Homo sapiens: one gene and its partners. The protein of the gene in region 1 interacts with the protein of each later gene in a pairwise test. Each region holds a gene or a part of one and is shown in the gene's direction. Other genes may lie near its edges.

Evidence for each region. The genes of interacting proteins can lie anywhere in the genome.
Region 2: the proteins of RFC5 (region 1) and CIMIP2B interact in binary tests that used the Homo sapiens proteins (3 or more experiments, as listed by UniProt).
Region 3: the proteins of RFC5 (region 1) and PPP1R16B interact in binary tests that used the Homo sapiens proteins (3 or more experiments, as listed by UniProt).

What each region holds. Positions count from the first base shown.
Region 1 is NC_000012.12:118,019,699-118,026,719, forward strand, and holds part of RFC5 (replication factor C subunit 5), read left to right. Parts: coding exon 1-70; intron 71-1,207; coding exon 1,208-1,287; intron 1,288-2,587; coding exon 2,588-2,661; intron 2,662-5,152; coding exon 5,153-5,312; exon of another isoform or gene 5,313-5,316; intron 5,317-6,048; coding exon 6,049-6,130; intron 6,131-7,021. UniProt on the Homo sapiens protein: Subunit of the replication factor C (RFC) complex which acts during elongation of primed DNA templates by DNA polymerases delta and epsilon, and is necessary for ATP-dependent loading of proliferating cell nuclear antigen (PCNA) onto primed DNA.
Region 2 is NC_000009.12:35,561,317-35,568,652, reverse strand, and holds CIMIP2B (ciliary microtubule inner protein 2B), read left to right. Parts: upstream 1-4,774; 5' UTR 4,775-4,824; coding exon 4,825-4,886; intron 4,887-5,094; exon of another isoform or gene 5,095-5,216; coding exon of another isoform or gene 5,217-5,263; coding exon 5,264-5,487; intron 5,488-5,572; coding exon 5,573-5,778; coding exon of another isoform or gene 5,779-5,810; intron 5,811-5,952; coding exon 5,953-6,004; intron 6,005-6,078; coding exon 6,079-6,273; intron 6,274-6,557; coding exon 6,558-6,646; coding exon of another isoform or gene 6,647-6,785; 3' UTR 6,786-6,822; downstream 6,823-7,336. Other genes in the region: AP-4 complex accessory subunit RUSC2, read right to left, coding at 7,271-7,336. UniProt on the Homo sapiens protein: Microtubule inner protein (MIP) part of the dynein-decorated doublet microtubules (DMTs) in cilia axoneme, which is required for motile cilia beating.
Region 3 is NC_000020.11:38,801,354-38,808,710, forward strand, and holds the start of PPP1R16B (protein phosphatase 1 regulatory inhibitor subunit 16B isoform 1 precursor), read left to right. Parts: upstream 1-4,343; 5' UTR 4,344-4,439; intron 4,440-7,357. UniProt on the Homo sapiens protein: Regulator of protein phosphatase 1 (PP1) that acts as a positive regulator of pulmonary endothelial cell (EC) barrier function. Involved in the regulation of the PI3K/AKT signaling pathway, angiogenesis and endothelial cell proliferation.

The sequences.
Region 1 (7,021 bases):
GACATCTACCATCCTAGCCTGTGCGAAACAGCTATATAAAGACAAAGAATTTGGCTCCATGGTCTTGGAGGTAAATAAGATTGTTCTTACTCTACAAATAACTTAAGAGACTCCAGTCTCTTAATTTCAGTTCTGCTGGTTTTATTTTACTTTAAAAGTAAGTTGCCCCACGGACAGTTAGGAAAGAAGTAAATTTGAATATTTTAATTCCCTTTTTCCTATAATGGTCATTTTGGTCTGGATTAGCGTTGGTCAGCTAGAGGGCAGTTGTAGGGTTTGGCACCTTTTTCTTTGCTCTTGCCAACTTCTCCCCAAACCTTACTTTATGGTGACTTGGTTGCTGCCTGTCTGCCATGGCCCCTCTAGATCAATTCTCCACGTTTCTCCACCATATTCCTGCCTGGAAGGCTGAGCCCTACTGACTATAAGCTCACTTACCCTCTGGCTCCTGGTTGGGTTTGGCCAATAGGGGCCTTGGCAGGGGTGGGGGAAGGAAGTGAGTGATGCCTGGGCCTTCCCTGGGGGCTGACACAGGCTGGCAGCATGGCCCACCTGTAGGGTACATCTCACAGGTGGTACCTTTCCTGCAGCCCTCTCCAGGTGCCTACAGCCACTCCCTTCACTAAGCCCTTCAGGCTCAAGGGTGACAGGTATTGCATAGCCCCATGGTTTTCCTATATCACACCTTTAAAAAGATCTTGTTTAATTCTCTTCAAATTGCTGCATTTGAGTATGCCATCTGTATATTGCTGGGACCTTGACTAATATACTTAGATTCAAAAATCTGAGTATTGTCTATTGCAAGAAAAGTTTAACTTACTTTTTAGACGCAGGTCTCAGAACTTTGCTGCTACTAATGTCCTTATTTCAGTTTATTAAGAACTTGGTAACTTAGGATTGTGGTAGCTGAAATTTGTATCATTCTGCTCATACCAGAGGTGCTGTTCAGTGTAACCATACCAATTAATTATTTCTCCAATTTATGTCAGTCATTGTCCTCAAAGGGTGGGGGTAATATAGCCATCTTTATTAATTTAGTGAATTTTGTGTAAAACTGATTTTTTATTTTATGATGATCTCTTAGCCATCATTAGACATAGAGAGCTAGCCTGCTGAGCTGGACTGATGAGGAAATACACTAACACCAAGAACTCACAGATAGCACAGCAACATGGTTTTTGTTTTGTCTTCTGTCTTCCACATTTAGCTGAATGCTTCAGATGACCGAGGAATAGACATCATTCGAGGACCGATCCTGAGCTTTGCTAGCACAAGGACAATATTTAAGTAAGAATTATTTGTGTAATTTCGCTCCCTTGATTTTGATTAGTAAGATGATATGGGTTAATTTTTTAATCCTCTCCTTAGCCAGTTTATATGGGTTGAAAAAAAAAGTGACTTTGTCCAAAGCAACCATGGAAAAGAGATAAACGAGAGGGATGGTAGTAAGAAGCGTTATAATGCAACTGTTAAAATAAAATGTTATCTACGCTTGTATTAGCAAGTTTGTTTTTTTTTTCTTTTTTTTTTGGAGACAGGGTCGCCCTGTATCGTACAGGCTGGAGTGCAGTAGCATGATCTCGGCTCACTGCAACCTCCACCTCCTGGGTTCAAGCGATCTTCCAGCCTCAGCCTCCTAAGTAGCTGGGACTACAGTCGTGAGCCATCACGCCCAACTAATTTTTGTATTTTTTAGTAGACATGGGGTTTTGCCATGTTGCCTAGGCTGGTCTCGAACTCCTGAGCTCAAGCAATCTGCCCGCCGCAGCCTCCCAAACTGCTGGGATTACATACGTGAGCCCAGCCTGCATTACCAAGTTCTTTAGGGAGCATTAACTTCATTTTTAGTTCCTGAGAACTGGCTAGATTACCCTAAGACTGGATGAGCTAGTTTGAATTTAAAAATAAATTGAGATCAGGAAGGACAACTAGGATGGTGGCTAAAAAAAAAAAAAGAAAGAAAGAAAAAGGGTGAGGGCCGGGCGCAGTGGCTCACACCTGTAATCCTAGGACTTTGGGAGGCCTAGGCAGGTGGATCACCTGAGATCAAGGGTTCAAGACCAGCATGGCCAACATAGTGAAACCTCGTCTCTACTAAAAATACAAAAATTATCTGGGCATGGTGGTGGGCGCCTGTAATCCCAGCCACTCAGGAGGCTGAGGCAGGAGAATCGCTTGAACCCAGGAGGCAGAGGTTGCAGCGAGCCAAGATCGCGGCACTGCACTCCAGCCTGGGCAACAGAGCAAAAACTTAGTCTCAAAAAAAGCAAAAGGGTGAGGGACTCAGGCATGAGTGAGGGAGACGGGAAAAGCAGTAGCATGGTAGGGTGCCATGTGGAGGAAAGTGAAGATGCCAGAGGACACAGCGCACAGAAGTAGAGAAGTCTCCTCCATTCCCACCAAGGGTTGAAGGAGTGATGCGGCATTTCCTCTCTGAGTGACCAAAGATGTCTGCCTTGGCCAAAGTTCTAGAAGAAATTGTCTTTCTGAGACAGGGCCCGATGGCACAATGGGAAGATATAGGTTTGAGCCCAGATGTTGAGATGAGATTGAAGAAATCTTTAGACAGCACCATTTGTTTTTCTAGGAAAGGCTTTAAGCTAGTGATCTTGGATGAAGCAGACGCCATGACTCAGGACGCCCAGAATGCCTTGAGAAGAGGTAAGCAGAGGCACTGTGGAGCGTTTGGGCTGGTGTGCACACTGGAAGGAGAATTAGGAACTTTGTGTTTGTTGCTGTTGTCATTGTTTTTTTAGGCGGGGGGGAGTTTTTTTTTCTTTTTTTGAGTCAGAGTCTTGCTCTGTCACCCAGGTTGGAGTGCAGTGGCGCAATCTTGGCTCACTGCAGCCTCTGCCTCCTGGGTTCAAGCGATTCTCTGACCTCAGCCTCTTGAGTAGCTGGGATTACAGGCATGCACCACCACACCCGGCTGATTTTTATATTTTTAGTAGAGATGGGGTTTCACCATGTTGGCCAGGCTGGTCTCGACCTCCTGACCTTGGGTGATCCGCCCGCCTCGGCTTCCCAAAGTGCTGGGATTACAGGAGAATTAGGAACTTTAAGCTTCCCAAAGTGCTGGGATTACAGGAGAATTAGGATGTGAGATATGGCTTGGCTTGTTTTCAGTTTTCATCTTCTGGCCCAGAGAAATCTCTATGCCTTTCTCTGTGTCTCCCATCTAATGACACAGGCTAGATACCTCTGTAGCGGGACTTCCCCTTCAGCAGCCTAGGGACTAAGCCCTGCGGGGACTTTTAAGTCTGGCCAGTCACTGGTGTTCAACCTCCTTTGACACTGGGTTCAATTTCAGAGTTGGGAATTCATATCTTTCCGTGGGATGGGGTGTGGAAAATCTTTCATCCTTAAGCTATCAGATAGTCCTTCTGCTAATAGTACCCTCTCCTTTCTACTAATGGTACCCTTTGAACCACAATGGCTAGGAAAAGCATATCTGAAGTTGAGGTGCTCAGAGAGCTGATATTACTTCACTGCTTGCCAAGTGAATGATTTGGCAGCGGGAGGGACAGCACCCTGCGATTTGTCTGTCTTCAGGGGCCTAGCGCAGTTCTTTTCTCTTAAAGGACACTTGTCATCTCTCATTAAGATTCCAAGTGAATCAGCTTTGAGAGAAGAACGATCTTTAGGAGTTTGTGGCGAGGGAGTAGATGGCAGCACATGTTAAGAGAAGGATGGGGGAAGGGGGAGGAGGAGGAGGGGGGAGGAGGGGAGGAAGAGGAGGGGGTGAGGAGGAGGAGGGGGAGGAGAAGGCGGAGGAGGAGGGTAGGGGGAGGTGGAGGAGGAGAGGTGGGGGAGGAGGAGGAGGAGGAGGACAGCGAGAATATCTTCTGGTCCTAGAAGCTTGGCAGCCTTTCTTCGGCATCTTGTTCTGCCGAGTGACTGTCATTCTGGGCAGATCCCCATGTGAGAACATTGGGTACCTACAGAATGGAACCGGTGTCATAAGCAACTCTTTGTTCGGGTTATTGCTCCCTTGAGTGCTCTAAGGCCTCCAGACAGTCTCCATGGAAAAGTCTGCAAAAAGCCGCCCTCCCTGCCCATAGAAGGTGAAGTGTCATCAACCTGCCAAATATAATTTTATGTAAAAGGACAAGAAGTCTCATAGTCTTAATGGGATTACATGGCAAAAGTGCCAGAATCATGGCAAATGGTAAAAAGGAAGCATTTTGTAAAATCCCACGGAGGCATGTTTACCAGTTTGTGAAAGAGGGGTGGCTAGGCAGGGCGCAGTGGCTCACACCTGTAATCCCAGTACTTTGGGAGGCTGAGGCAGGCATATCACCTGAGGTCAGGAGTTCGAGACCAGCCTGGCTAACCGATGAAACCCCATCTCTACTAAAAATACAAAAATTGGCCTGGCACAGTGGCTCATGCCTGTAATCCCAAAGGCCAAGGCGGGCGAATCATGAGGTCAGGAGATCGAGACCATCCTGGCTAACATGGTGAAACCCCGTCTCTACTAAAAATATAAAAAATTAGCCGGGCGTGGTGGCACGTGTCTGTAGTCCCAGCTACTCAGGAGGCTGAGGCAGGAGAATCGCTTTAATCCGGGAGGCAGAGGTTGCAGGGAGCCAAGATCGTGCCATTGCACTCCAGCCTGGGCAACAGAGCGAGACTCTGTTTCAAAAAAGAAAAAAGAGGAGTGGCTAATCTCTGATCTGAACAGGCCAGCACTGCCCTGTCTTGTCATAGGCTGCAGCCTCACTTGTTTACATTCTTTCTTTTTTGAGACAGAGTCTCACTCTGTTGCCCACGCTGGAGTGCAGTGGAATGATTTTGGGTCACTGCAACCTCCACCTCCCGGATTCAAGCAATTCTCCTGCCTCAGCCTCCCAAGTAGCTGGGATTACAGGCATGTGCCACCACACCTGGCTAAATTTTGTATTTTCAGTAGAGGTTTTGCCATGTTGGCCAAACCTCCTGACCTCAAGTGATCCTCCCGCCTCAGCCTCCCAAAGTGCTGGGATTACAGACGTGAGCCACTAAGCCACTACGCCCGGCCAACATCCTCACTTGTTTGCAGTATTGAATCTTTTCCTATACCCTTGTGACCACAGAAAAATTCAAGTTTTCTGGGCTCTCTGAAAAATCAGAATGGACTTTGACATGAGGTGGTTTTATTTTCTCTTACTAGTAATTGAGAAATTCACAGAAAATACCAGATTCTGCCTCATCTGTAACTATCTGTCAAAGATCATCCCTGCCTTGCAGTCCCGCTGCACGAGGTTTCGGTTCGGTCCCCTGACTCCTGAACTCATGGTTCCCCGCCTGGAACATGTCGTGGAAGAAGAGAAGTGAGTATTTTGCGGGCCTTTGGGGATGGAGTGTAGTAGAAACAGGCTTGTGGGATCACTGGCTGGTTCGTATGTAGAGGAGAGGAATGTTGGAAAACGACTTTGCAGAGTGCCTAGCACAGGGGAGGCACTGGGGACCGTCCACTGCTATCATTTTCTCTGCTGTCTCAAGGCCATTCCTCATAAAAGTCATTTGGTACTTCATTTTTCTTGATTCCATCCTCCTCCCCTGGAAGCTGTCCCAATTTCCTCCTACTCTTCTTTGTCATTGGAAACTGCAGGCTGCTGAGTCCCTTCTGCAAAGATGCTTCCAGCCTTTTTAGACTAGAAGGGAAGGTTCTAAGACATCACATTCTGTGTAGTCAGATGCCAAGCAAGTAGCCGACCTGAGCAGCTGCTTGTTGTGAAGGAGGAGTTTCGGCTGTGTGATCATGGCTTGTGCCAGGCCTCTGTCCTCCCCAGAGAGCAGAATTCAAGACGACTGGCTCCATGGGAGAATGCTTGTTCCTAAATTCAGGCTGTTCTCGATTTTGGTTGGCTGTGACTACTAATGTGAAGCCCAGGTCCCTAAAAACCAGAGTGAATTCTAGATCATATAGATCAGGAGATTATTAACTCTGTTCCTCTCCTTCCTTCATCCCTTTAAAGCCTTAATCATTCCAGGCCATCTTGTTCCTTTGGTGAATGCTGGTGCTCTCAGGGGGCCTCATAAATCCCTTTTGCTTATTTCTTTCAGAGTTGATATAAGTGAAGATGGAATGAAAGCACTAGTCACTCTTTCCAGTGGAGACATGCGTAGGGCTCTGAACATTTTGCAGGTATGGTCTCAAGCAAATCCTTTTTTTTTTTTTTTTTTGAGACAGAGTCTTGCTCTGTCGCTCAGGCTGGAGTGCAGCAACACAATCTCAGCTCACTGCAACCTCCGCCTCCTGGGTTCAAGCGAATCTCCTGCCTCCTGAGCAGCTGGGATTACAGGTGCCCGCCACCACGCCCTACTAATTTTTGTATTTTTAGTAGAGATGGGGTTTCGCCATGTTGGTTAGGCTGGTCTCGAACTCCTGACCTCAAATGATCCATCTGCCTCAGCTTCCTAAAGTGCTGGGATTACAGGCATGAGCCACCATGCCCAGCCTGGTCCCAGCAAATCCTGAGTCATTGTTTTGTAATAGTTTTTGAAGAAAGACCTAAGCAAAGGCATGATCAATCTGTAAATTTTGAAATCTACAGCTGGTAAGACCTTGGTCTCATAACCTGCAGGATTCCCCCTCCTCACTTTGTATTTTGATTAATTGAAAAAATCACTTGTTGCAGGCCAGGTATGGTGGCTCACGCCTGTAATCCCAGCACTTAGGGATGCCGAGGGAGGTGGATTGCCTGAGCCCACGAGCTGGAGACCAGCCTGGGCAACATAGTGAGACTCTGTCTCCACTAAAAAATCATGAGCCAGGTGTGGCGGTGCACACCTGTAGTCCCATCTACTCAGGAGGCTGAGGCAGGAGGGTGACTTGAGCCTAGGAGGTCGAGGCTACAGTGAGCCATGATCATGCCACTGCACTTCAGCCTGAGCAACAGAGCAAGACCCTGTCTCAAAAAACAAAGAGAGAGCAAAAGAAAATGTTTTAAAAACAAAAGGAATCATTTGTTGCAAAGAAGGCAAAGGGAGGGAAGGATTTGGCACTGGAATAGCCAACAGGCTGTGGCATCCTCTG
Region 2 (7,336 bases), on another chromosome or scaffold:
TAAAAGTTGCCTCTGAATTCATCTTTGATTGAATTCTCATTTATTTATAAATAATTGTGTATAACTGGAATTTTTTCTTTGCCCCAAGGGTTAAGGTGTTTTTGTTTTTTTTTTAATTTTAATTTTTATTTCTTTAAGAGACAGGGTCTCACTGTGTTGCCTGGGCTGGAGTGCAGTGGCTATTCACAGATGTGATCATAGCGCCGCCCTACAGCTTCAAATTTCTGGGCTCAAGCCATCCTCCCGCCTCAGCTTCCCAAGCAGCTGGGATTACAGGAATGCACCACCACGCCCAGCTCAAGGGAGTATTTTTAAATGTCTAAGTGTTAGGTTGGTTGTTTGTTTAGCCTATTTTAAAATTTTAAAATTGTGTTTGTGTGAGGAAATGTGGTTTATTGTGCTTCTTGGAATTTTTGAGATTTTTCTTCATGGCCTATTATAAGATCAGTTGTTTTTGTTTAGATCTTCATTGTGGTATTTATTTTATTCTGCCTTTCTCTGTACCTCTGTCTCTTCTTTAAAGTGGTTCGATCACTGAGGTCAGGCATTGTCTGTATTGATCTATAAGGCAACTGCCTAGTAGAAATATTTAATAAGTAGGCTGAATAAATGAATATTGATCCTTGTGGATTTGAGGAGTGTTATATACATAAAAAATCCAGGCCAGGTGCGGTGGCTCACGCCTGTAATTCCAGCACTTTGGGAGGCTGAGGAGGGTGGATCGCTTTAACCCAGGAGTTCAAGACCAGCTTGGACATGGTGAAACCCTATCTCTATAAAAAAAAAAAAATACAAAAATTAGCCGGGTGTGGTGGCATGCACCTGTAGTCCCAGCTACTCTGGAGGCTGAGGTGGGAGGATCACTTGAGCCCAGGAAGCGAAGGTTGTAGTGAGCTGAGATTATGCCACTGCACTCCAGCTTAGGTGACAGAGTGAGACCCTATCTCAAAAAAAGAAAAAAACCAAAAAGGTAGAAAAAGGTAGAATAGAGACCAGGCCATTTCCTTTCCTTCGATCCCTCCAAATACCATGATTCCTTGTCATTTCTACTTGGATTCCCTCCACCACACCTCTTTGGACCTCAAAAGCATAGATTTCAATTGTCATAATCTTTGGTTTGGCACATTCTCATCATTAGTTCATACTTTGTTATAATGTATGCATTATAAGCATTTTTTTTTTTTTGATACAGAGTCATGCTCTGTCACCCAGGCTGGAGTGCAGTGGCATGATCTCGGCTCACTGCAACCTCTGCCTCCTGGTTCAAGTGATTCTTCTGCCTCAGCCTCCCAAGTAGCTGGGATTACAGGTGTGTGCCACCACACCTGGCTAATTTTTGTATGTTTAGTAGAGATGGGGTTTTGCCATATTGGCCAGGCTGGTCTCGAATTCCTGACCTCAAGTAATCTGCCCACCTTGGCCTCCCCAGGTGTTGGGATTACAGGCATGAGACACTGCACCTGGCCCATTATAAGCATTTTTGAAAACATCATCCCAAACAAAAACTGAAACTTTGACAATAACATACATCTAACTATGTGGTTCCCCCTTTCCCACCCCTTTTGTTTCTCACCATCTGAGGTGAGCATTTGAAACCCATTTTTATCATTCCCTTGCTTTCCTTTTTATGCAGTTTTATGCATCTGCATGTATTTTTCAAACTAAAAAAGGTTTTGTGTTGCATGTAATCTTTTGGAGTTTATTCAATTCTTGTTTCAATTTTGGTGGACTGTTGATTTCAGGAATTTTTTCAAAGGTCCTGTGATTTTCTTTTATTCATCCTTGCAGAGGGGATTTATGCTTGCCTAGGGTTGACATACAATCAAATGATTGATTTGGGATCTGTATGAAATTTTATAGCAGTTCCTGGTCAGAATCAAAGGCAGAACAGAAGGCTATAGGCTGCCATTGTGGGGACCCAGCAGGCTGTGTGGACTGAGTGGGGCGCTGTCTCCAGTTAAACATTTTCTCTCCACTGCCACATCCAACACTGGCCACTGGGTGTGGCAGCTCCCATCAGAGCAAGTTGTGGTCATGTTTCTGTGATGTCTGTCCCTGGAAGGAGGCACAGAGGCAGCAAGCATTCCTGTGGTGCCTCAGCTGGCCCCGTCACTCCTTTCTCAGATTAGAACACCCTTCAGGGATCTAGAAATATTCTTTATTCAGATGGAAACAATCATAGTAACAGGCCATTCTACCAATTGGATAGAGCTGTTTCTTCATAAGCCATAAACCTAAGACTAATCCTAATCTGTTTCCTAACTTGTGTTTTAACGCATACCCGGATTCTAACTGCCATGGTCTTTTCTGCAGAATGTGTTCTAGTCCCTACATCCTAATTTATACCCCAACTTCCATTCAAACCTTTCCCTTTTTCAATTTCATGAACCTTTCCCCTGAACCTCTAACATCTGTGACTGCTCCCAGCTCCTTTCCTTCCTCCCATTCCTGCCAAATGCTAGCCGTGAATTGCTGTTTAGTTAGCACTTACCGTAAGCTAGACGCTGGGGTCATTGCTCATTGTGTATCATCTCAGCTAGCTGATATCCTACTCTATGAGATGGTAACATTAGTTTTTCCATTTTACAGATGAGAAAACTGAGGCTCAATGAGATGAATTTGGACAAAGTCTATATCTCTGGTGAAGCTAGGATTTGATCTAGTGGTGTTTTTTTGTTTTGTTTTGTTTTTGAGACGGAGTCTCACTCTGTTGCCCAAGCTGGAGTGCAATGTGCGATCTCAGCTCACTGCAAGCTCCACCTCCTGGGTTCATGTGATTCTCCTGCCTCAACCTCCTGAGTAGCTGGGACTACAGGTGCCCACCACCACGCTTGGCTAATTTTTGTATTTTTAGTAGAGACAGGATTTCACTATGTTGGCCAGGCTGGTCTCGAACTCATGACCTTGTGATCCTCCTGCCTCGGCCTCCCAAAGTGCTGGGATTAAGGGTGTGAGCCACCGTGCCTGGCTGTTTTGTTTTTTAAAGTTATGATGCCTTTGGCTGTAAGTGAAAGAAAACTTAAAGTGGCCTTAATAATGAAATTTACTATTTGACATAAAAAGGCTGATTAATTCCATGGCTCTACATTACCCTCAGGACCCTGGCCTTTCTCCTCTACCATCCATCCTTGATGTGTCCAGGACTTGTCTTCAGGTTAGCTTTCCACAAGGCTTCCACATGCCTGCCAGCATTCCAGCCTCACATCCCCCAAAAGTCTAGGGGCAGGAATGGACATCGTTTCGTCTTGCGCATCTCTGTCTCTCTCACTTGCTCTAATTTGATGTGAATCTTTTCTTTAAGAGCAAAGAAACTTTTCCCAGGACCCTCCCCTGCCCCAGCAGATTTCCCCTCATATTATCCAGAATGCTGGAAGCCCGTGCCTAAGCGGTCATGGGGAAGGAGCATGGGACCACGCTTAGACTAATCCAGCTCATTCCTCCAGGCTGGCTCTCCAAGCCTCCCTGATGCAGTTTCTGGCTCCTCGGAAGAAAGGAGATGGGGGTCAGGAATAGGTATAAGCTGTGATAGTGTCTGTCACAGAATCCCAAGTCTGGTTGTTAAGCTTGACACACTGCTGCTATTCTGGGCTTGCCCCTCGGCTCCCATCCTCACTCTAACATATTTCCTCAGCTGTGAGGTAAGTCCCCACAACTCTAAATGACACATTCTAAGGCTGTCCTTGGCAGAACAGTGAGGAACATGAAATGTGTGCCTTGGAGCCCAGTGCTCTTATGTAATTCCCCTGGGATGTCAGTGCCGTCCTTGGTCAGCGCAGGCATGGTCACTGGAGGTGGGGAGAAGAGCAGAGCTCTGCCTCAGAAACGTGGGCCCTGAGCCCTCAGCCTGGCCCTGACCCAGCCCCAGAACTTTTTGTTTTGTTTTGTTTTTTGAGGTGGGGTCTGGCTGTGTTGCCCAGTTTGGACTGAAACTCCCGGACCCAAGTGATCCTCCCACCTCAGCCTCCTCAGTACGTTGATGTGAGCGTGGCTGCACCCGGCCCAGAGTTGGGTTTTAAACATGTTTCCCCGTCCTCTGAGATCTCATCTTCCTGGTCTGTGCTTTTTCTTCTCTTAGAATCCGAATTTTTTATTTTATTTTATTTTTTTAACAAATTCTAACTTGCTCCCTAGTGTTACCGCCCACACCTACAACAACTTTATCCTGTTTCCTTCCCTCAACCCCCACAGCTTTTCTGGCTCCCATGGAGTGCACACTCGGCCACTGTGGCCGGAGCCTGGCAGAGCCTGGCTCATTTGTTGAATGGATGACTCTGATTATAGCAGGTATTCAGTAAGCCACTCTTGTTAAATTATTGAAAATAAACGATGTTACTCCCTAGAGGTGTCTAGGTTCCTTTTTTTCCCCCATCACCTGTCCTCTTTCACCTCCCCTCTGGGCCCTGGCTTCCCTCAAAGATCCTTTCTCCAGGTCCCCCATCTCCTTTGATGAAGACTCATGAGGAACACAGTGTCCACCTCTCAGGCAGGCGCTCAGGAAGGAAGTCGCTGAGACAGAGCTCAGTGGCCCGAATGGTTTCTGCTCCCTCACCTCCCACGTCCCACCTCCCACGTCCCACCTCAGGGCTTCCTTCGGTTCGGGCCCTGCCCCACGAGCAGGACCACCTTTGTCCTGGACAGACAGACCTGCTAGCCTCTGCTCTACAGTTCTGCCGGCCTTCGCCCTGGCTGTCCTCACACGAGTGCCCCCTCCCTTCTCTCCTCCCTTAGCCCCGCCTCCTTCCTCTAGCCCCACAGCCCTGGACACGGTACACACAGACCAGAGCCTTGGCTCAAAGGCAAACAAAAGGAAATGCCCGGCTCCCCATGGCTGTGGCCAGCACCTTCATACCAGGGCTCAACCCTCAGAACCCTCATTATATCCCAGGGTAAGACTCCCACTTAGCGCTCCCCGCTTGCTGCTGGGAGTAGGGGTATAGGGTGGAGGAATTAAGCTGCTTAGAGCATGGGGCCAAGCGGACAGGTTGGTTTGGGAGGCTGAGGTCTCTATGGTGGTGGATGGAAAAGGAGAAGCAAGGGACTAGTGAGACACCGGGTCTGCCCCAAAGCTTTGTGTTGTTCTCTCCATGGGAACAGGGTAACAGCAGAGGAAGGATCGAAAGCCCAGGCAGAGAACTTAGAAATGCCTGCTCCAAATATATACACTGCTGAGTCCAGAAAGATCAGGGCTTCAGAGGTCTCCGCTTCTGCCTCTGGGGATGGCGGGGCAGGGCGATTCTGGTGAGTGGGAGAGTCTGTGCTGCAGGTACACTGGACACTGCCCACTACTTCGGTTCAGCGTGGGCCAGACCTATGGGCAGGTGACTGGTCAGCTACTTCGAGGCCCTCCTGGCCTAGCCTGGCCCCCTGTCCACCGCACACTTCTGCCTCCCATTCGGCCTCCAAGATCTCCTGAGGTTCCCAGGGAGAGTCTACCTGTCAGGCGTGGGCAAGAAAGGCTCAGCTCCAGCATGATCCCTGGGTACACAGGTTTGTACGCAGGTATGCACAGGTGCCCCTCCCAGGAGCATGTGTTCCAAACACTAACGAGTCTTCCTTGTCCCTGCCTGCCCAGGTTTTGTACCCCGGGCACAGTTCATCTTTGCCAAGAACTGCAGCCAGGTCTGGGCCGAGGCTCTGAGTGACTTTACTCACTTGCATGAAAAGCAAGGGAGTGAAGAGCTACCAAAGGAGGCCAAGGGAAGAAAGGACACAGAGAAGGACCAGGTGCCAGAGCCGGAGGGGCAGCTGGAGGAGCCGACACTGGAGGTGGTGGAACAAGTGAGACCAAGAAGCTGGTGGGGAGTGCAGAGGTGTGGGAGTGGGGGTCTTACTGTGTGTCCGGGCAGTGGGGGCAGCATGAGTAGTGTGGCTGTGGGTTCAGGGGATGTGCACTTGATTGTCAGCTCCACCTCCTTGGGAGATTGTGTGACAGCACAGGGGCTTCTCTCACAGGCTTCTCCCTACTCCATGGATGACAGGGACCCTCGGAAGTTCTTCATGTCAGGTGAGAGCTGGGGGGTCAGGATCAGAGGCGTGGGGAGGCCCCAGGATGCCTTGGCTCAGTGTCCCCATCCTCAGGCTTCACTGGCTATGTGCCCTGCGCCCGCTTCCTCTTCGGCTCCAGCTTTCCTGTGCTCACCAACCAGGCACTGCAGGAATTTGGGCAGAAGCACTCACCAGGCAGTGCCCAGGACCCCAAACATCTCCCCCCACTTCCCAGAACATACCCTCAGAACCTGGGTCTTTTACCTAACTATGGGGGCTACGTGCCAGGTGAGAAGAGCCCCCGGGGAGGCTTTGGGGACTGGAATGTTTGTTTGTATGGGTATGGGGTGGGTTGGGTGGTTTGTGGGGGTTGAAACTAATAGATATGGGAGGGCTCAGATCATGTGGTTCAGCTTTATTATCAGGCAGAAAAGGAAACCGAGGTAGCTACCCACAGTGGGGAATTAGGGCCAGATTTTAGAGGGCTGTTTGGAGGTCTAGCCAACTGGCTGAGAATTAAATGGCTTTGCCATGCCACTTGCTACATGTGACAGACTCTCTTGGCCACACAGGGTATAAGTTCCAGTTTGGCCACACATTTGGCCATCTCACCCATGATGCTCTGGGCCTCAGCACCTTCCAGAAGCAGCTCTTGGCTTAGGCCACTGGACATCAAGTTCCCTTCCCTTTTCATCCTATCCCAGCCATCCTTTTGGAAGGGAGAGAGGTGGGTGGGAGGGTGGGAGGGTGGGGGAACACAAAGAGAAAATGGTTTGGAGGCTGAGCACCTTTTTTATTAATAGGTATAATAAATAAATAAATAAATACATAAACAGACGCCTGGGCTCCTCCTCCCTCTTCTGATGACCAGGCACTGGCCACAGCCTATTTACAGCTGGGGGGCTTAGGGATCTGGCCCCAATACTGTTACCCATCCTCATCTCCACCTGGCCTAGGGAACCCTGTAGATGGCTTTCTGGGCCACCCGCCTCCAGGGGGACTTGCTTGTCTTCACCCATGGAAGGGTTGGCCCAGACGGGCCAGGGGAATCCTGGCAGCCCAGTGCTGTGTCCCATCCCTCTCCTGGGTGGAGGTCTGGACAAGGTCACTGGGACAGTTAAGGGGGCGTAATTAATACTGAGCACAGGGAGCAGGTGCCAGCACAGGGATACGTGGCCCCAGCTCTCAGTCTACTCTGCAGCCAAGCCAATGGCTTGGGAAGGGCTCTCGGGCTCTGAGTCTGGGGGTTATGAGGGTCCCTGAGGCCACCAGCATGCACAGGGCCTCAGTTTTGGCTGCTTCCAGGGGTTGGACTTGGAGTTGGGGTCAATGTCACGTAGGCCAGGGGCAC
Region 3 (7,357 bases), on another chromosome or scaffold:
ATACAATCATATAATATGTGTATGGCCTTGGAACTGGCTTCTTTCACTCAGCACAAGGTTTTCAAGGTTCATTCACGTTGTGGCATGTGCTTCATTCATTTTGATTGCCAAGTAATAGTGGATTGTACCGTGTTTTATTTATCCATTATCATTTGATGGATATTTGGATTGTTTCCACTTTTTTTTTTTTTTTTTTTTTTGAGACGGAGTCTCGCTCTGTCGCCCAGGCTGGAGTGCAGTGGCGGGATCTCGGCTCACTGCAAGCTCCGCCTCCCGTGTTCACGCCATTCTCCTGCCTCAGCCTCCCAAGTAGCTGGGACTACAGGCGCCCGCCACTACGCCCGGCTAATTTTTTGTATTTTTAGTAGAGACGGGGTTTCACCGTTTTAGCCGGGATGGTCTCGATCTCCTGACCTCGTGATCCGCCCGCCTCGGCCTCCCAAAGTGCTGGGATTACAGGCGTGAGCCACCGCGCCCGGCCTTGTTTCCACTTTTTAGCTGTTGTGAATAATGCTACTATGAACATTTGTGTACAAATTTTTGTGTATGTATGCTTTTATTTCTCCTGAGTATATACCTAGGAGTAGAATTGCTGGGTCATCTGGCAACTCTATGTTTTAAATTTTGAGGAAATGCCATACTGGTTTTCAAAGCAGCGGCACCATTTTACATTTCCACCAGCAATGTATGAAGGATCCAATTTCTCCATATCCTTACCAATGCTGGTTATTGCCTATCTTTTTTATTATAACCATCTTAGTGGGTATGAAGTGGTATCTCATTGTGGCTTTGCATTTCCTTCATTGCTAATGATGTTGAGCATCTTGGCCATGTGTATATCTATCTTCTTTGAAGAAATGTCTATCCAGATCCCTTGGCCTTTTTTTTTTTTTTTTTTTTTTTTTTTTTTTTTGAGACTGGGTCTCGCTCTGTCGCCCAGGCTGGAGTGCAGTGGTGTGATCTTGGTTCACCGCAACCTCTGCCTCCCAGGTTCAAACAATCCTCCCACCTCAGCCTCCCCAGTAGCTGGGACTACAGGCCCATGCCATCATGCCCAGTTAACTTTTTGTATTTTTAGTAGAGTCAGGGTTTTGCCATGTTGCCCAGGCTCCTTGCCCATTTTTTATTATTTGTCTCTTTATTATAGAGTTGTAAGAGTTCCTTATATATTCTAGATATAAGTCCCTTACCAGGAATATGATTTGCAAATATTTCCTCCCGTTCTGTGGGATATTGTATTATTTTGCCAAGGCTGCCATAACATAATACTATAGACTGGGTGGCTTAAACAACAGAAATTGGCTGGGTGCGGTGGCTCACACCTGTAATCCCAGCACTTTGGGAGGCCGAGGTGGGTGGATCACTTGAGGTCAGGAGTTTGAGACCAGCCTGGCCAACATGGTGAAACCCTTACTCTACTAAAAATACAAAAATTAGCCGAGCGTGGGGGCATGCACCTGTAATCCCAGCTTCTCAGGAGGCTGAGGCAGGAGAATCGCTTGAACCTGGGAGGTGGAGGTTGCAGTAAGCCAAGATCGTGCCACTGCACTCCACCCTGGGCAGCAGAGTGAAACTCTATGTCAAAAAAACAAAACAAAACAAACCCCCAGAAATTTATTCCTCACAATTCTGAAGGCTACAATTCTGAGATCAAGGTGTTGGCAGGTCTGGTCCCCCAGCCCTGAGTCCTCTCTCCTTGGTTTGTAATTAACCTTCTTCTCCCTGTGCCTTCCTCTGGTCTTTCCTCTGTGTGGCGCATCTCTAGTGTCTCTTCTTATGAGGACACCAGTCATTGGATGAGGGCCCCATCCAAGGGCCTCAGTTTAAGATGATCACCTCTTTAAAGACCTTATCTCCATCCACAGTTACATTCTGAGGTTCTGAGACTGTAACCAGTACAGTTCAGCATATGAATGGGGGTGAGGGGGCACACAATTCAGCTTATAACAGTTATTTTTTCACTCTCTTTTTGTTCTTTTTATGTTTAATTTTTTTTTTTTTTTTTTTTTAGAGACAGGGTCTTGCTCTGTCACCCAGGCGGGAGTACAGTAGCACCATCATAGCTCACTGCAGCCTTGAACTCCTAGGCAAAAGCAATCCTCTTAAATAGCTAGGACTACAATCATGAACCACTACGTCTGCCTAATTTTAAAAGAATTTGTAGAGACAGAGTTTCACTATGTTGCCCTGGCTGGTCTTGAGCTCCTGGCCTCAAGTAATCCTCCTATCTCCACCTCCCAAAATGCTGGGATTATAGGTGTGAGCCACCAGGCCCAGCCATAACTTTTCACTTTCTTGATGATACCCCTGAAAGCACAAAAGTTTTTAATTTATCTATTTTTTTTTCTTTTGTTGCTTGTGCTAATATCTAAGCAACTACTGTTTAATCCAAAGTCATGAAGATTTAGGCTTATGTTTTCTTCAGAGAGTTTTATAGTTTTAGCTCTTACATTTAGATCTATATGTTGCATATAGTATGAAGCAGGGATCCAAATTCATTCTTTTGCATGTGGATATCCAGTTGTCCCAGCACCATTTTTTGAAAACACTATTCTTTCCCCATTAAATTGTCTTGGCACTCTTGTTGAAAATCAATTGGCAGTAAGTGTAAGGGCTTCTGTCTGGACTCTCAGTTTTATTCCATTGGTCTGTATGCCCATCCTTATACCCGTACCACCCTGCCTTGATGACTGAAGTTTCCTAGTAAGTTTTGAAATCAGGACTTGTGAGTCCCCCAACTTATTCTGAATTTACTTTAACTTTTGATACCGAACACAGTGTGAGAGGTGAATGAACAGCATGACATTGGAGTTGGGAGCCCCCTCCCTCCAAAGGCCTTATTTTAGGAACACAGGCCCCAAGTGCCACACAAGCCTTGGAGAGATGGGTTCCCATCCTCTCAGCCCATGGCTCTTCATTATCAATCAATGGAAACATTCTTCGGAGAACAATGATTCCCTTGGGTTATTTTAAACATGGCTTTAAGTCTTCCCCACATGCTCTACTGTCTAATTGCTTTTCCTGAAACAGTGTCATTCACAACTGGATTATTAATGAACTGAGAGGGAGCCAGGGAGCCAATGAAGGGGGCTTACAGAGTTCCTGGAGAGGGCCTGGGGGCCTGGAACAAGTTCAACCCACAGATTTTCTCTCCCCCAAGAAAGGTGACTGAGCAAACAGAAAATCACTAAACTCAGGTGATGCTGGTGGCCTCAAAAGAATATTGCCAGTGAAAAAAAAAGGATTCGGGCGAGTTCCTCAAACATGACAGCTGAGAATCAAATTAACTGGGTACCATCCCCAAACTCCCCAAACTTAAACTCTGAATTTCCCCAGCTGGCTGGCCCTGGGGTGCCTAGGGCTCTCATCTGTAGGCCGGGAAAGCTCAGGAAACAAGGCCTTTGTGGAGAAGAGAAACCTATTGTTCTAAGGCCAGGGTTCAGCAAATGTGGATTCCAGAGAATGTTTGGGGAGGTTTTCTCTGCTTTGTTTATGAACTTTCTTTTCTCTTCCTGGGGTGGTGATGGTGGGGGGTGACTCTCAGCAACTTAAATAGTTAAACCCATTGTGTTGTAAAGAAAGGCTGGTGCACAGAGTGCAGAGGCCTTCAGCCCCAGAAAGAGGCTTGAATGAGGTGACAGAAGCCACCGGGTATGTTTTGCTTTTTATTTTTAGCGTTAAATCTCAGGGAAGCAGCCCCTATCTTCATCCTGCACATCTCAAAGGGCGTCAGACGTCAGCAGAGGTACGACCACTTCCTTCCTCCAGCGCTTCACCTCCCTTCTTTCCAGAAAGAGGAAATGATGCGAGTCCACACCGCAGGCCACAGCCCCCATGTCTCGGCCCCAGCAGCTGGGGGACCTGGCCCCACAGATCTGTCCCCAGCGCAAGGCCAGGGCCGGCCCCTGGACCTCCTGGGAAGCCTTCAGACTCAGGCCGCGCAGGCCTTCAAGCTAGGAACCCTGAGTTCCTGGCCCTGGCATTCATTCTGTGTGACCTTGAGCAGGTTACCACTCCTCTCTGGGCTTCAGGATTCCCGTCTGTCAAATGGGAGCAGGGATACCGTCCTTGGCTTCCCTCTTTCCATGGTCGGGGTGGGGGTTAGGAAAACTATTTTGGAGGAGGGGGCAGCGTTAGGAAAACTATTCCGAAGCCTGGCCACGTCCCAACCGGTTTCAACTTCCTGCAGCTCAGAAGAGGGGTCCCCACCCGAGAGCGCCGGGACCCTGTCCCGCGCTGCCTCCCAAGCCGGATGGGGTTGAGCGCGCCCACCCCAGTCCCAGGAGCTCAGGCCCCGCCTTGGGGGAGGAGCCGAGAGGCGGCGCGGAGGCTCGCGGCCGAGCAGAGCCAGCTCTGTCGCCGCTGGAGCAGCTGCGGCTCGGGGACCCACAGACACAGCCGGGGTCGGGAGCCGCCCGGGGCAGGGCTCGGGAGAGCGGGTGAGTTCCCCGGCGGCGCCACCACCCTCCTTGCGCTCTGCGGCTTCGCAGGGCGGGGGATGAGGATGGGGCGGGGAGGTGGTCCCAGCCTGCTATCACCTAGCTGGGGGCCGGGGCGCTTTGGCCAAGGGACGATAGCTTGAGATAAATGGGAGTGTGGGGACTCTGGAAAGACGGGTACCGAGAGCGCTAGGTCCGGGAGTCGGGCTGGAATGGGGGCGTTCTCCCCGGCCTCGCAATTCCTTGACGAGGCCAGGGGAGGGGGCGCATTGGCAGGTTGTTGGCTGCGGCCGTCGTAGACCGATCTTGGGGCGGGGAGGTGGGGTCCTCGGTCTGTTCTGGACTCATGGGGCCGCCGTCTGCCGGGGGTGCAATGCCGGGCGGCGGGAGCCACAGCGGACACCAAACAACCCCCCCCCGCGCACTCTCCCGGCCGGGCATGGTGGTGCCGCCCCCTCGCGTGGCGGGGCTTGGTCCTGGCGGGCAGCGGCAGGGCGCAGAGAGCGCTCCTGCCCGGGCGGGAAAGATCCCCAAGGCAGGCGCCTCCACCTGCAGACCCGCCCCGCCTCAGGATCCGGCTGACAGCACCAGCCAGCCCGGGGAGACCCCGCGAGTGGTAGTTCCCCGGGAGGGGCGCGCCCGGCCTCTCCCAGGGCCCCGTGCGCCGGCGGCTGGGTCCCCCGCGCCAGGAGCGCTCCCCTCTGGGCGACTCCGGCTCATCGATTCCGGCCCAGAGGAGCGCCCCCGGGCGCCGAGGATGGGCGGAGACGTGCAGCCGCCCCTGAGAGGTCGCCCAGAGGGGTCTCCCCAAGGTCACCCGGAGTGCCCAGGCTGAGCTGCCCAGACCGCCCCGGGTGGAGAGCCGGGAGGCAGGCGCTCGCTGCCCTCCTCCTTCCCCCATGTAGACTCCCTTCCTCCGCTCCCCCACCCCGGCCCGGCCTCCAGCTTCACTGGAGATGCTGATGATGCAGCTCCCAGCCCTTGGAGGATAATTGAGCCTGGGAGAGCTTTGAATCTGGCCCTCCTGAGACCCCAGGGCTGCGCCGCTGCCGCGCGCCAGGCCTGGGTCCCGGTGCTCCCGGGCACCTCAGGAGCGGAGGGAGAGGGATGTGGCTTCATCAGCGCTTCTAGGAACCGAAAACCGAGCTGCCTGCGCGCCCATGTGATTGCATTTCACATAAAGGGCCCCTGTTTTCACTGTCAGAAGAGCCCCCCAGCTCTCCGCGGCTCTGGACACCAGGTGCCGCCTCTGAATCACCCTCTGTGGAGGACCCGGGGCCCGGAGGTACAGGCGCCCTTTCCCGCAGGGCTCTCCCTGGAAAGGGCCTGCCGATGGCGGCCTCAGTCCGCAGGGGTACTTCCCTGTGTACCCTGCCATTTCCTGCGGCTGGTGAAGCACCGGAGAAAAACCGTCCATCTAGGAGGCCTCCTCCAAGGCTGGTAATAAAGCTTCTTAGCCCAGCCAGCGACTAGCTGTCTACTCGTGGGCAAGGTACTTGGCTTCTGGAGTCTCAACTGCCTCTAAGATACGGGGCTAACAGCCGCCAGGCTGTGGGGAGATGAGGGAGAGGCTGGGTGCAGCAGAGCGGGAGGATGAACACTCCTTGGCCAATACTGGCCGCCCTCGGGATTGGCTTTGAGTGGGGCGTGTCTCTCTTAGACAGGTGCAGAAGTGGAGCCCTGGTGGGTGGTTCTGCAGGGGCTGGGGGAGTTTCCACATCTTCCTCCCCCAGCTCTGTCATAAAAAGCCAGCTTGCAGGAGGCCGGTGGGGGCCAGCAAATCCTTCCAGCCGGCTGCCTGCTCACACGGCCCTTCCCACACAAATCTCCCATGCCCTTCTCTCCCACCTGTCACCCAAATCCCATCTTCCTGGCTGAGTCCCCAGGATGCTGGGGGCAAGATGTCAACCAGGCCACCCTGGACTGTCAACTCTGTGCCTACTTGTCTACTGGGGTCTACCTAACAGTGTTCCCCTGTCCTGGAACCTTCCTGGCTCCAGCTCTTCCCAGCCTCTGTAATGTCTTCTTTCCCCTCTTTTGGTCTCCTACCACCGTGACACTCATTAGTGGCTCTGTGGTTCATGTGTCAAGGGCCCCGTGCCATCTGTGCTCTCCAGATCATCCATGGCCTAGAAAGACACGGTAGGCAAGGCCCTGTGCCCACTCAGACTTTGCTCTCCCTGGTAATTGACGGAGTGGAGGTTAAATTCTAATCTAGCTGTTAAGTCATTTCAGGAGCTTGAGCCACAGGGCTAAGAGGATACTGATGTAGGCAGGTGGTTTTTCCTTAAAGCCAGAACCTTTCTCCTTTCTGCAGAGCCCATTTGAGCCCTTTGGAAACTAGGCCTATGTGTGATGGCCTCACAGAATCCTCACAACCCCGTGAAGTAGGCATTACTGATTCCCATTTTGCAGATGGGAAAACTGGGGCTCAGCTCCTCTCAAAACCAGCTCCATGCCCCAAGTGTAGCAACAGAGGCTGCAGCCAACCTGGTTTAGGAGAAGGCAGAAGGCACATACCTGAATTCAGGTGCTGTGCTTGGACTCTTGGGACCCCATCCCCCCAACCTTTCCCTCCCCTCTCCCAACCTAGCCACCACCCCTCCTGCACCCAGGACTCTTGTCACATTTGTTGACCAGGAGGTCCCAACTGGCACTCTTCCAGCAGAGACCAGGAAAACCTTCACTGTCCTGAGTGCATCTTAGCAATTGGGCTTCAAGAAGGGCTCGGACAAGCCTGCCTCTTACAGAAAGCTACGAGTATGAAGAGTGAGGGAGCCAGAGAGGTCTAATTTTAATTAGGGATCTATACCTAAAAGCTCTGTGACCCTGTATACATGACTTAATCTCTCTGAGTCTGGTTTTCTCATTTGTAAAATAGGTATCACAGTAATGCCTACTTTGTGGGATTGTAAGGA